Linked DNA regions of Homo sapiens: all the other regions are reported to be linked to region 1. The links are microRNA targets in miRTarBase. Many come from high-throughput screens and were not tested one by one. Region 1 holds a microRNA gene; each other region holds the end of a gene's coding sequence.

Evidence for each region. The annotated mature microRNA hsa-miR-127-3p reads UCGGAUCCGUCUGAGCUUGGCU and lies in region 1 at 1,434-1,455, shown strand. An mRNA with a match to its seed (bases 2 to 7 or 8) in the 3' UTR can be bound and repressed. Matches are read on the target gene's strand: a 7mer-m8 pairs with bases 2 to 8, a 7mer-A1 pairs with bases 2 to 7 and ends in A, and an 8mer does both.
Region 2: miRTarBase lists ACTR3B as a target of hsa-miR-127-3p. The part of its 3' UTR that is shown has no 7-base or 8-base seed match.
Region 3: the mRNA of USP35 is a reported target of hsa-miR-127-3p. The part of its 3' UTR that is shown has no 7-base or 8-base seed match.

The regions. Positions count from the first base shown.
Region 1 is chr14:100,881,602-100,885,768 of GRCh38, forward strand. MIR127 (microRNA 127) reads left to right here and starts at 1,378; the gene lies at 1,378-1,474. RTL1 (retrotransposon Gag like 1) reads right to left here. Exons shown (of 4, transcript NM_001134888.3): 4 at 1-3,273. The coding sequence starts at 3,187. MIR433 (microRNA 433) reads left to right here and starts at 285; the gene lies at 285-377. MIR432 (microRNA 432) reads left to right here and starts at 2,882; the gene lies at 2,882-2,975. It also overlaps MIR136. RefSeq lists a silencer at 4,091-4,167.
Region 2 is chr7:152,853,848-152,858,014 of GRCh38, reverse strand. ACTR3B (actin related protein 3B) reads right to left here. Exons shown (of 12, transcript NM_020445.6): 12 at 2,637-3,557. The coding sequence ends at 3,462. Among named protein-coding and RNA genes, the nearest start is that of ACTR3B, 96 kb to the right of the region's middle.
Region 3 is chr11:78,213,255-78,217,421 of GRCh38, reverse strand. It overlaps USP35 (ubiquitin specific peptidase 35), which reads right to left. Exons shown (of 11, transcript NM_020798.4): 11 at 2,190-3,776. The coding sequence ends at 3,609. GAB2 (GRB2 associated binding protein 2) reads left to right here. Exons shown (of 10, transcript NM_080491.3): 10 at 1-2,129. Among named protein-coding and RNA genes, the nearest start is that of USP35, 26 kb to the right of the region's middle.

The DNA.
Region 1 (4,167 bases):
AGCTGTTGAGGATCTGGTCGATGGGTATCATGGCCAGCAGCTCTTGCCGTAGGATCTGTTCATTGAGCTCATCCTGTTCTTCATTCTCTTCTTCCCCGGATTCCGTCGATGGATCCCTGGGGAATCCCCTTGAGGCCAGCAGCAGGGTTTGCCTGGCGGCAGTGTTCCTCTGGAAGGCTCTCCTCCACCGGAGGTTTCTCACAGGTGGCAGAGCTCGGCCGCCGTCTTGTTCTGGCAGCTCCATGACGTCAAAGTTGAAGTGGGAGAAGAAGAAGACCCAATGCCCGGGGAGAAGTACGGTGAGCCTGTCATTATTCAGAGAGGCTAGATCCTCTGTGTTGAGAAGGATCATGATGGGCTCCTCGGTGTTCTCCAGGTAGCGGCACCACACCATGAAGGCAGCCCGTATTGGAAGAATCTTCATCTCCGCTTGAGAGTACTCAACCTCGATAGGGGAGATGTTGCGGGAGTAGAAAGCGCAGCAGGCTCTCTTGCCGGTTTGGTCGTCGATTTGGATCAGGGAGGCGTGCAGGGCCGTGCCGGTGACGCCGGTTTCCAAGTAGAATGGGTTCTGGGGCTTGGGGTGGTGGAGGAGAGGCGCCTTGCGGAAAGCCCTCTTCAGGCACTCGAAGGCCTCTTGCTCCTCGACTCCCCAGTAGAACTGGTAGGAGCTCAGCAGCTGCCGCACCAGGGGCTCTGCGATGATGCTGAAGCGCTCCACGAAGTGGCGGTAGGGGAAGACGAATTCGATGAAGTTTCGCAGAGATAGCTTGGAGCCAGGGGTAGGGTACCCTGTTATGATGGTCATGACGTTCTTGTTCAGTTTCACCCCTTTGGGGGTGACGACGAAGCCCAGGAATTCCACGGTTTGGCGGTGGAACTGGCTCTTGTCCAGGGAGCAGTAGACGTTGTGATGGCGGAAGCGGACCAGGACTTGGCGGACGTGGTGGAGGTGCTCCTCCTGACTCATTGAGTAGATCAGGACTTCCTGGCCATAAGAAAGCACAAAGAACCCTAGCATGTCCTTTAGGATGAAGTGAATCACGTTCTGAGGTATGATAGGGTCTGGGGAGAGCGCAAACGGCTGGTAGCTCTTCATCTCTTCAAGCTCCAAACCAAACGCTGCTTTCCACACATCTTCGGTGCGGTGCCCGTTCACGCTTTCCTCCACAATGGTCCCACGCAGCTCCAGTTTTGTGAACCACTCGGCTCCGTGTAACTGGTCAAACAGTTCCGGAATCATCTGTATGTAGTCCTGTCTGTTGGTCAGCATGTCCTGCAGGTCCCAGTATTCCTCCTGTAGCCTGGCTCTTTCTTGCATCCTGGCACCCACAGGTTCCCAAGGCGCGGTGGAGGGACACTCGTAAAAGGTCTCGCTGTGATCACTGTCTCCAGCCTGCTGAAGCTCAGAGGGCTCTGATTCAGAAAGATCATCGGATCCGTCTGAGCTTGGCTGGTCGGAAGTCTCATCATCTGCTTCCTTCGGGTTAAACACGTCGGCCAGGTCTGAGTATGGGTGTGGCAGTCCGGGTAGCAGGCTCATGCCGTGCCTCTCTAGGGCAATGCATGGCGGGGGCGGGCGGAAGCAGTTCTTCAGGCAGTAGGGAGAGTGGAAGGTGCAGCGGCCTTTGATCCAGTCGACTTCGGGGGCGTGGACTCGGAGCCAGCGGATGCCTAGGACCACAGAGAAGTTCGGTGAAGGTACGATGTCAAATTCGATGGACTCCTGGTGGTTCTGGTGGATACACACCAGGGGCTCCGTGTAGAGCCAGACAGGCTCGTTGCCAATCAGCGAGCCGTCCACGGATTGGACCGGCTGTGGGTACGGCTTCTCGTAGAGCTCGACGTAGTGCTCTTGGGCGAACTTCTCATCCATGAAGTTGCCGTCAGCTCCCGAATCCACCAGGGCCTGGACCGCGACGCTGTGGTAGGGGTTCACTCTCACCATGAGCAGCAGGAAGAGGTGGGCGCGATTGATGTCCGGATGGACTTCGCTGGGCAACCAGCTGCTGACCATCCACCTCTCTGGAGCAGGTGAGTCGATCCAGGTCAGGTTCCGGGGGCGGGCCTCGGGGGGCAGCCTGAGCATAGCTCTTCTCTCTGCCAGCTTCTCTTCTATTTGCAGGATGAGCACAATCAGACTGTCTAGGGAATCCGGCTGAGGGACCCGGAATAGATAGTGCCTGATCTCCTCGTTGAGCCCCTGGCACAAGTGGGCCTGCAGGACTTCATCTGGCCAGCCCAAGATGGGTACCAGGCTCTGGAACTCATCGATGTACTCAGTGGCAGAGCGGCCGCCCTGCCTGATGGTGAACATGGCCTCTTCTGCCACACGCAGTGCCTGGCGGTACTCAAACACTTCGGACATGGCCTCCAGGAAGGCTGGGAAGTCTCCGATCAGGGGGCTGTTTTCCTGCAGTAGAGCTTTGGCCCATTCTAATGCCAAGCCGGACAGGTGATTGATGACATAGCCAACTCTCAGACGGTCGTTATAGAACATTCTTGGGTAGCTCTGTAAGGTCAGTTGGCAGAGTACGATGAACTCGTGGAATTCTCTGCGATCGCCAGAGAAGTGCTTTGGGGCGGGCAGTTGGCCTGCATTGATCCCTTTGATCAAGATCTCTTCTGCTACTCTCTGTTGCTCTTTGAGGTCTTGCATTCGGAAGTACAGCGAGATGATGGACCTCACCATGGCCATAAGTTCTGCGGTTGAGTGCTCGGTCTGGTTTTGCTCTTGAGGAGTCTCCTCCCTTCCCGATTCCTTCAGGTCAGTGTGAGCCTCTTGTTCTTCTCGGGCTCCCGATGGGTTGACTGATGCTTCTTTCATCCTATCAGATGCTCCACTGAGTGGATCCCCCCTTGCCTGGTGTGAACCGTTGCATGACTCCTCCAGGTCTTGGAGTAGGTCATTGGGTGGATCCTCTATTTCCTTACGTGGGCCACTGGATGGCTCCTCCATGTCTTGGAGTAGATCAGTGGGCAGCTCTTCCATTTCCTGGAGTGGGCCACTGGGGGGCTCCTTCTTTTCCTGGGCTGGGCCGCTGGCTGGCCCTGCCTCTCCCCGCACTCCACTGCCCGACGTCGCCTCGGTGGTGTTGGATGAGCCCTCGGAGGACTCCATTTGTTTTGATGATGGATTCTTATGCTCCATCATCGTCTCAAATGAGTCTTCAGAGGGTTCTATCATTTCGTCGGATGGAAAGGAGTGTATTCTGAAGATTGGTAAGGTTGTGATGGCGTCCAGTCAGTAGCTGGGACCGTGGAGATCAGAACCTGGTGGTGGAAGGGGAGTGTGGGGAGTAAAGGCAGTAGTTTAGGATCTTGTGAAGTGGCAGTATCAGGGTCTCAAGGACAAATCAGATGCCCAACTAATCAGAGCAGAGAGAAATGGGGGAAAGCCTTCTTGTATCGAGCCAGCCTCTTTGGCTGGTCACTTGGGGTGCCCCCAGGGAGGGAAGATCTGTCAACCCCTGACCTGCCTCCCAGGCTTATTCAGTCTGCCTGTCCTGTCCTTTTCCTCCATAGATGTGAGAAATTCACAGCCCATAAATTCTGTGGCTGGGAGCAGCCACCGTGGCAGGCGGGTACCTGGCAGGGTGCACAGGCTGCTCCATTCCCCCCTGGCACATGCACCTGGTCAATCCTCTTTTCCTGCTTTGGTCACCTGAGAATCACAGAGGTCACATCTCAGCACCATCCAAAGCCACCCCTGGCAGGCTCAGGGCTCTGGAGCAAGCCCAGCCACCTTGGTTGTGGAGCGGGAATCTCTAGCAAAGATGCCTACTGTTTCACCAGTGCAGTGGAAGAGGAGAAAATGGGCACTTGGCCACTGTCCCGTCAGTTGGGTCAGCAGCCCAAAATAGTTCTTATTTCCTTCCCCATGTTCAAAATAGAAATTTCAGGGGGTGTGTACAGGTCTGGGTTTTTTTTTTTTTTTTCCATAAATTTTATAACATACCTACTATGTGCTGGATAACTGCATATTTGTTACTTGATTCTAACTCAGACTTTTGGCCAATTTCTCTTTCTCGATTTGGTCTCCTTCCAATGCTATGTTCTCCCGACCTCTGAGCTGTTGAGGAGATCTTCAAATAATCTCCTTCTCTTCCTACAATCTCCACTCTCCCAGGACTGCCCTCTTTGTGAGGCTTCTGGAACTTCACACAT
Region 2 (4,167 bases), not on the chromosome of region 1:
TATCATATTCTCACCATCGTAAAGCTGAGTTTATGTCTAAATCTGTTGAATAGGGCAAAGCAACTTCCTGCACTTTTTAAGAAGGTCTCACTCTGTTGCCCAGGCTGGAGTGTGTGGCATGACCCTGGCTCCTGCAGCCTTGAGCTCCCGGGCTCAATGGATTCTACCACCTCCACCTACCCAGTAGCTGAGACTACAGGTACTCACCACCACACCTGGCTCCTGCACTATTAAAAGGTTTAATAGTCCTAAAGACTGTAGACTTATAATTTTAGAATTTAACGAGTGTATTTGATGAAATATTTTTTACAGAAAACTGCTCACCTGGAGTTGTAGTTTTGTCATAGGAGGTCGATTTTACCCATCAACTCTAGGAATACTTAACTCATTTCTATATTATGATCTAACTCATTCAACCTGAACAAAAGGTATGTGCAGATTTTATCAAATTTACTAACTGTAAACATTTTTCTTCCTTATAAAATGACGGGTGCACATGACCATCACAGTTCATTTCTATCTATAGTATCTGCCAGGCTCACTGAATAAACAAAAAATGATAACTCACCTCTATTAACAGGAAAAGGACCATTACAATTCTCCCACAGATGAGCAAACAGAAAATAGGATCTCATTTGCTTGAGGAACAGCCAGAATTGGTATTCAGATCTTTTTGAGTCAAAAACCCTTCCTTCTGCTCATAAGCCTTTCAGATCCAGCTACGCTGGCATTGCCTAAGGAGTTTAAAAACAAAAAGCAAAAATTGGATGCCTTCCCTGGGGCTCCTATTCTGATTCTCTTAATTTGGGATGGGTCTTGCCCAGGGTTGAGAACCACAGCATCATACCTGTCACATTGTAATGGATCATTCTGTCCTGTCAATGTAGGTTTAAAACAAAATGTTCTCGGCCTGGCACGGTGGCTCACGCCTGTAATCCCAGCACTTTGGTAGGCCAAGGCGGGCAGATCACCCGAGGTGGGGAGTTTGAGACCAGCCTGACCAACATGGAGAAACTTCATCTCTACTAAAAATACAAAATTAGCCGGGCATGGTGGTGCACGCCTGTAATCCCAGCTACTTAGGAGGCTGAGGCAGGAGAATCGCTTGAACCCGGGAGGCAGAGGTTGTGGTGAGCCAAGATTGCGCCATTGCACTCCAGCCTGGGGGACAAGAGCAAAACTCCATCTTAAAAAAAAAATTTAAAAAAAAAATATATATATATATATTCTCCCACAGTTCTTTAAGTTGACAAACAGAAGTACAATCTCAAAGCTAATCTTGTACCAAAGAAGGCACAGGGAAGCTTTGGGTATCCTGTGGTGGAAGGACAGCTCATACAGCTCTAGCTTAGCCAGGCTGCCACAGCACTGACATACAGAGTGGTGTTATTCCCAGGGTTTGGAGAAGGCGCAACAAAGCACCTGCCAACGCACAGATGCAGAGCAGAGGTGGGAATGACGGTGCCCACTGTGAGATGTGCAAAGCATGCTGAATCGGGCGGGGCAGGGTGGAGATGGGAGTATCAGGTAGGTCCCTGAATAGCACAGAACTAAGAGGAAAATGGCGTTAGAAGGAACGGCTCTCGCTGCCACGTTCAGGGTGCAAAGGTGTGACTGAAGGCAGGCAGACCAACCGGGAACTTGATGCAATAAAATGGCTGGAAGATCATGAGAAGCCAACGGTACAGCAATCCCGAGAAGCAGCAAATCCCCCAAGGGAATGCAGAGAAACACTACGGATGAGGGGAGAACCAGGTGGTACCAGACTCTTGACTGGGGAGACTGAGGGCCTAGCACAGTGACAGTATCAGAGATTCGGTCAACTGAGGTTGGTAAACTCAGATTTCACCATACTGAGTTCAATATTAAACTTATTTCTAAACTCAAATAATAACATAACTTTTTTTTTCTTGTTTTTGTTTTATTTAAGACATGGAGTCTCACTCTGTCACCCAGGCTGCAATACAGTGGCTCAATCCTAGCTTACTGCAGCCTTGACCTCCTGGACTCAAGTGATCCTCCTGCCTCAGCCTTCTGAGGAGCTGGGACTTCAGGCGCACACCACTGCACCTGGCTACGTTTCTTTATGAAGGCAAATTTTCTGAGAACAAAACATATTTCATTCACCTCCTTTGAGAGTGAAACTAAGGAAAAAATTTTAAAACAGAACAAAAAAAAAACATACTTCACAACTTAGAAGAAATACCATAAATAACAATTTTTAAAGTAACATAATTATAAGAATAATATGAAGAGTGAAATCAACCTAAATCTATTAATTGAGCAAATTACCTTTCAAGCTAGCAGTCCATTCAGCAAACATCAGAGTAGTTACTGAAAGCTTACAGTCATGAATCCTGAACTTCTAGGAAGGAACATCAGAAATCATTAGGCACTCCTTCCCACTATACCCCAGATTCAAAAACCATCTCTGACGGGTTATCCAGACCCACGATACCCCCAGCGATGGAGTGGTCACTGCGGGGCAGGCAGCCCACACCATTCGCGAAAAGACATTTCCTCCCACAAGCTGAGTATTAATCAAATTCTCCAATGATGTAAAACAATGTCAATATTCTTTAAAGGAGGCACAGCGACAGGGAGAAAACCAACAGACCACCACACTACAGCAGAAAGATATTTACAAATATTCTAACAGCTTTTATTACAATGGTGCAAGGAAGTATTTCATCCAACACTCACCGACAACAAACCATCATCTTCTATAAAACAGCTCCAGAAAGTTCAAACAAAAAAAACTAAAAGATACATGTATCTGTAGTAATTCTCATACATTACTGTTTAGTGTTCAAACTTCATGTCACTCCAATAAAGTATAATCATTTTCTAGCAAACATGTGGCAAAAAAGTTTGCTGTTTTATTTGTTTGCCTATAAACATATCAGAACATGCCTCACAATTAAAAACTTTGGATTACAGCACTCCATAACATCAATATCTATTCGTGCTTAGTATCAGCCAGTTGTACCAAATACCATAAAATACAAAATGATAGGAAATATAAACATCGATTTGTATTTCAAGTTTAAACATTTTATTTACAAAAATAGGCTGGGAGGAAAAGGGTTTGCGCCCCCACATTCTCTCCTGGGACCTAACGATTTTGCGCCATTTTCTAATGTTGTTTTCTCTAACAATTTTCAAAGTCACATTTGGATTCCTTCAGAATTGTATTTGTCAGCTAGCAGCTCGGAGGAGGAGGAGGAGGGAGAGCGAGGGTGAGGAGGGCGGGAGAAGGAGGAGGCTGGCAGACAGCGGTCGGCACACGGATAAATGGCTTTTACTGAAGGGCCCGCGCCGCGCCTCATGCACCGGCAATGCAAGCACGCTGCTGGGCAGCAACACCGACGTCGCTATTTACAGAACGGCGGCCTTCTCTGGGTTCTGAAGGACACTTGTTCCCCAACGTGACACCATCGAACGACGCGTTCAGGCAGACACTAGGACATGACTCCAAAGACGGGGTTGTGGCGGCAGATGCTGGGCCCGTACTCTTCATAGTCCTTCTTGGTGTGGCAGACCTGAAAGAACTCGGGCTACGAGAGGCAACAGGCAGACAGAAAGACACTCATTTCAGAAGAAAGTCAAGGGAACCAGCTACCAAGCAGGCAAGACACTCTCCTCATCCCGGCCTCCACCCTCCCTCCCAGGACCGCTGCTGCAAGATTTTACCTCTCTGATGTACTAAACTACTAAATGGGGAGTTATTTCACTTTTTAGAAATTTCATCAGCCTGTATCTTCTTAGGACCAACCAAATGCCGGTCCCCCACTAACAATGTGTGAGCTATTCACAAATGTGAGGGGGAAAAGTAATAATTATTTGGAAAAGTCACTGGAATTAATGATTAATGCAGGACTTTTTTAGATTATTTTTGGATGCCACTTACCATGTTTTCTGTAACCCCTAATTAGCAAGGACACGTGATAAATGTGTTGTGTGATTATTAAGATATAGTTTATATCGGGCCGGGCACAGAGGCTCACACCTGTAATTGCAGCACTTTGCGAGGCCAAGGCAGGGGGGTGGATCACCTGAGGTCAGGAGTTTGAGACCAGCCTGGCCAACACAGCAAAACCCCATCTTTACTAAAAATACAACAAAAAAAAATGAGCCGGGCATGGTGGTGAACGCCTGTAGTCCCAG
Region 3 (4,167 bases), not on the chromosome of region 1:
ATCCTGGAAGAAGTTATTTCTTCAAGAGCTGCACCTCTCCTCCTAGCATTAGTTTAGATCAACTCAAGGAGTATTTATTAATGGCTGCTGTCTCCAGTTTCTGGGGTTAAGCACTAAGGACACAAGAATCAATCAGACCTTCTCCCTGAACTTAAGATAGCCACAATCAGAAAAAGGACAAGGACATGAGACAGTGGTGATGGCCATCAGACAGAGACTTCAAATGCTGATGGAGGGCAGAGGAAGTACTTAGGGAGGTTGGTGTCAGAGGCAGGAGTGGGGGATCAGGGAAGGTGGATTCTAGGAAAAGGGAGTGCCTGAGGTAGGCCTTAGAAGGGGATGAGTCAGATTTTTACAGAGGAGGAGGGCAGGGCTTGGGTCCAGTGGAGGAAGAAGGAAGGAGAGGCTTGGAAAGCCTTGTGTCTTGGGAACAAAAGGCCTTTGAGCATATGGGTCCAGCCACTCAGAAGTGTAGGGGCCATGCCTTGGTGTTCCAATAAGTGAATGGAAGCAGTGGTGGTAGCTACACTGGGCAGAGTTGGCAGGGTGCTGGTTCACTCTGCCCAGCCCTGAATGTGTGCCTTAAAGGCCCCCTACAAGGGGCCCCATACGACAGAGCTTTTAACTGGTGCCTTCCCTGTACCCGCAGCAGCCACAAGTGGGCCCAGACTATTGCAGCCTCCCATAAACATGTGAGCATGTTCTGAGTGTGCCATGATGTGAGTGGACCTGGCTGGAATCTTCGGAGAGCGACTGAGGTGTTCAAATCGAATCTCCCAGGAGGCTTCCTTCCAGCCCCCTATTCTGGTAACTACCAGGAGGCTTCCTTCCAGCCCCCTATTCTGGTAACTACCAAAATCCCTCGGGTGCAAGTGTAGGGGTAGAGATGGAAGGATGAGAGGTGAAATTGACCTTTTGAAAGCAAAGCTCTGGCTCACAGGCCCCAAACTACCAGCCGTATCTAGCATATCCCCACCCTCCACCCACTACCTCCTCCAACAAAGGAGTCAACTCAGTTGAAAAAACTGGTCCTTTGGCCTATCCATGGGTCAAAGTCCACCTCTCCTGGGGGCCTGGAGAGGACTGAGCCTACGGAAAGGGGATACCTTCCCACTCAGCACTGCTTCACACAGGCCCCCTGCCTGGGGCTCTCCAAGGAGCCTTCTTCACCCACTTCCAGCTCCACTTCTGCAAGGTTAAGTCAAGTGAGAACGATGAGAAATAGGGAGATGGTGTCTCCTTAAGTCCTTGATCTGCCTGTCTGTGGAATGGGAGGTTGGATTAGCTGCGCTGAGGTCCCATCCACAGCTGGTGCTCAGCTGCTTGAAGGGGAGACTCCCTCCTCTGTAACTTCTTTCTGGGGGATTGGGGTGGGCAGTACCTATCCCCAGTCCCCTCCTAGCTTGACTTTAGTGGTTTCCAATGTAGAAGTTAACAAAGTATGCCCCATTCCTGTGACAAAAGCACAACCATTCTGAAGTTACTGGAGCATGGGCTCAGCTCATCCTCCCTCTGGCCCCTTCTCCCATGGGGACATCTCGGCCCAGCACCCCTATCCCATTTCCAGAGTTCTTCCTTCCCCATCTGGGCCTTCATAAAATGCAGGGGAAGCCAGACTGGTCTCAGGAGCGCTAAAGCCCTTCCGTGGGGGGTCGTCTTTCTGGGACTAGCCCTGCTGTTTAGGACCTGGGACCACAATGGGGTACCTGCCGAGGGGGTCCCCAAGAGATCCAGGCTGTCATGTGATTTATGGTGGCATGTGTTGTGTATTTGTTGGCTACTTGTGTCTTGAAATCTAGAATTATTTCACGCAGAATTGTCACTGTTTGTCAGGAAGAGAAAATGGGCTAGTGGAAGCCCAGTCTTGAGTTCTTGTCTTGTTACCATTTAAAATTGACATTTAATTTTCAAATCACTGTTGGTGCCTAATCACTTAAGTTATTAATTTATTCTGTTGTATTCTTTTTTTTAAATTGTAACATATTTATCCGGTGGGTGGGACAGGAGTGTGTTCAAGTGGGTCATGTTTTTGCTGTGGTGACACATGGTACAGGCTTGGAGCTTGCAGGTCCCTTTCTACTGTGGTGTTGGAGCAGGACAATAAAGTCCACTAGAAATGCACCCCAGAACCAGCTGCCGTGTCCATCTTGTCTTGAGGGGCTTGGTGGTGGAACCCGTTCTCACTCCAGTCTGTTCCAATTTTTGCTTTATTTGGAAATAATTGGGTATTTTTCTTGGCTGTGAATAAGAACAAATGCTCTCTACCTCAGCGTCTGTTGTAAAGTGGAAATCATACTAGCATTTACCCATCCAGCTTTCTTAGGCGTCTAGAGATGGGTTCTGGGCGTGTCTGTCTGCTGCTTTCACAGGTCACTTAGATGTGACATCTTGAGGGTCTGTGACATTGGGCCCAAACTCCACACCACCATCACAGCAGGCAGCCCCTGGGGAAGGAGGTAGGTAAAGGCTTGAGAGCTGCCTCCCAGGTGCATCCTCTCCACGGGCAGCATCACCCAGCCCTCAGTAAGGTAAGTAAGTCAGTCAGTCCACACGTTTACTTACACCCCACTTCAGTAGATTCAGTAGAGGGCTCTTGGCTCCCTGTGGCATCTCACACGTCACTGGGGGGCAGGCTGAGTCCTGGCCTCCCCAGACCCCGTGAGCAAAACCCAGTGGCCATCACAGCCCCTGAGTCCAAGGAAGAACAATCTCTTGCTTAGGCTTACTTTTATTTATTTATGAACATGGGTGTCTGTCTTGTCTTCGGTTAGAAGTTAGAAGGGGGCTACAGCAGTGTCAGGGCACTTCACCCAACCTGCAGGTGGCTGCTGTTGCAGCTACAAAGGCCAACTGCTCAGAGGAGCCCACAGGCTTCCTAAGAGCCCACACTTCACAAGGAACATGAACACCTTTGCAGTAAAATCAGGACTCTAACCACAAGGGGGATACAAGTGGTGGCTTCTCAGGCCCTGAGGCAGGCGTGGAGGGGCTGTGGGGGCAAAGGCCTCCTGCTGTGAGAAGCTAGCCCCCCGCCCCCCCCCCCAAAACCATGCAGTGGCGCTTGGTAAGGGGGCAGGTCTCGGTCTCTGTTCTTCTCAGAAAGGTACAGACAGTGCAGGTACCCCCCACCCCCATATGAGAAACAAACAAACAGGACAGCCAGAGGAGACACTGCCCCCCCCACCCCTTTGTGCAAGGCTTGGATCCTGCTGTGCTTTATACCGTACAGCAGTCGGAAGGAAAATAGTACTTGATGTCAAAACATTGGAGCTGAGGTCTAGCCTGTTTCCTGAACATCATCAGATCTTCCCGCATGGGGAGCCTGCTAGGGAAGGAGGGGGAGGCAAAGACCCGTGTGTGCCCATCTCGGCTGCTTCAAGTTAACCAGGACACTTGGGTGTAAAGTTTTAATGGGACTGATCCCCAATGAAAGGGACTTAGGTCTTACTTCCATATCTGAGAGAATCTCTGTGTACCCTTCATCAGGCTGAGGACTAAGGTGCCATGAGCTGTACCATCCTTCCTCTTGGTAGGGCCTGCCTCCACAGCTTCCCTCAGGCCCTACCTGGCTCCTGGAGGGAAGGGGTCAGGTTGGCAGCAGGTTCACATTAGAAGACCAGTCTGTGGAAGTCACCACCATTGCCACCTGCAGGATTGCAGCCCCCTGGAGAGCCTTCATCCTCATCCTTGTCTTCATCAAAGCCCCTCCCCCAGTGCGGAGATGTGGGGAGTGCAGAGATGTAGGCCGCCCTGCTCCGGGCCTCCTTCTCCTGCTCCTGGGAACACAGATGAGAGGAGACTTAGACTTAGAATTCACACCCTGAAGCCAGAGTGAGTCTACCCAGCACAACACCTTTCAATGTTTCCTCTAGGTCCCCAGGGCCTGGACACACAGAGACATTGCAGCTCAGTGGCAGGATATCCGGGGTGGACACCTTCAAAAGACTTCAAAAGACCCCCTCCTCTCAATAAAAACTCTAGTCCCTGAGCCAGCTGATACTAGGGTGTGACTGACTAGCTGACAAGGGCCTAATGTGGTACCGAGAGGTCTGAGGACTTCGAGGGTCATATCACACCACACGGGAACCTGTCCGCAGGCCTCATGATCACGAGGAATGGGCTCTGCCTATGAGAAAGCCCATCCTCCTGCTACCAGGACGTCAGCCT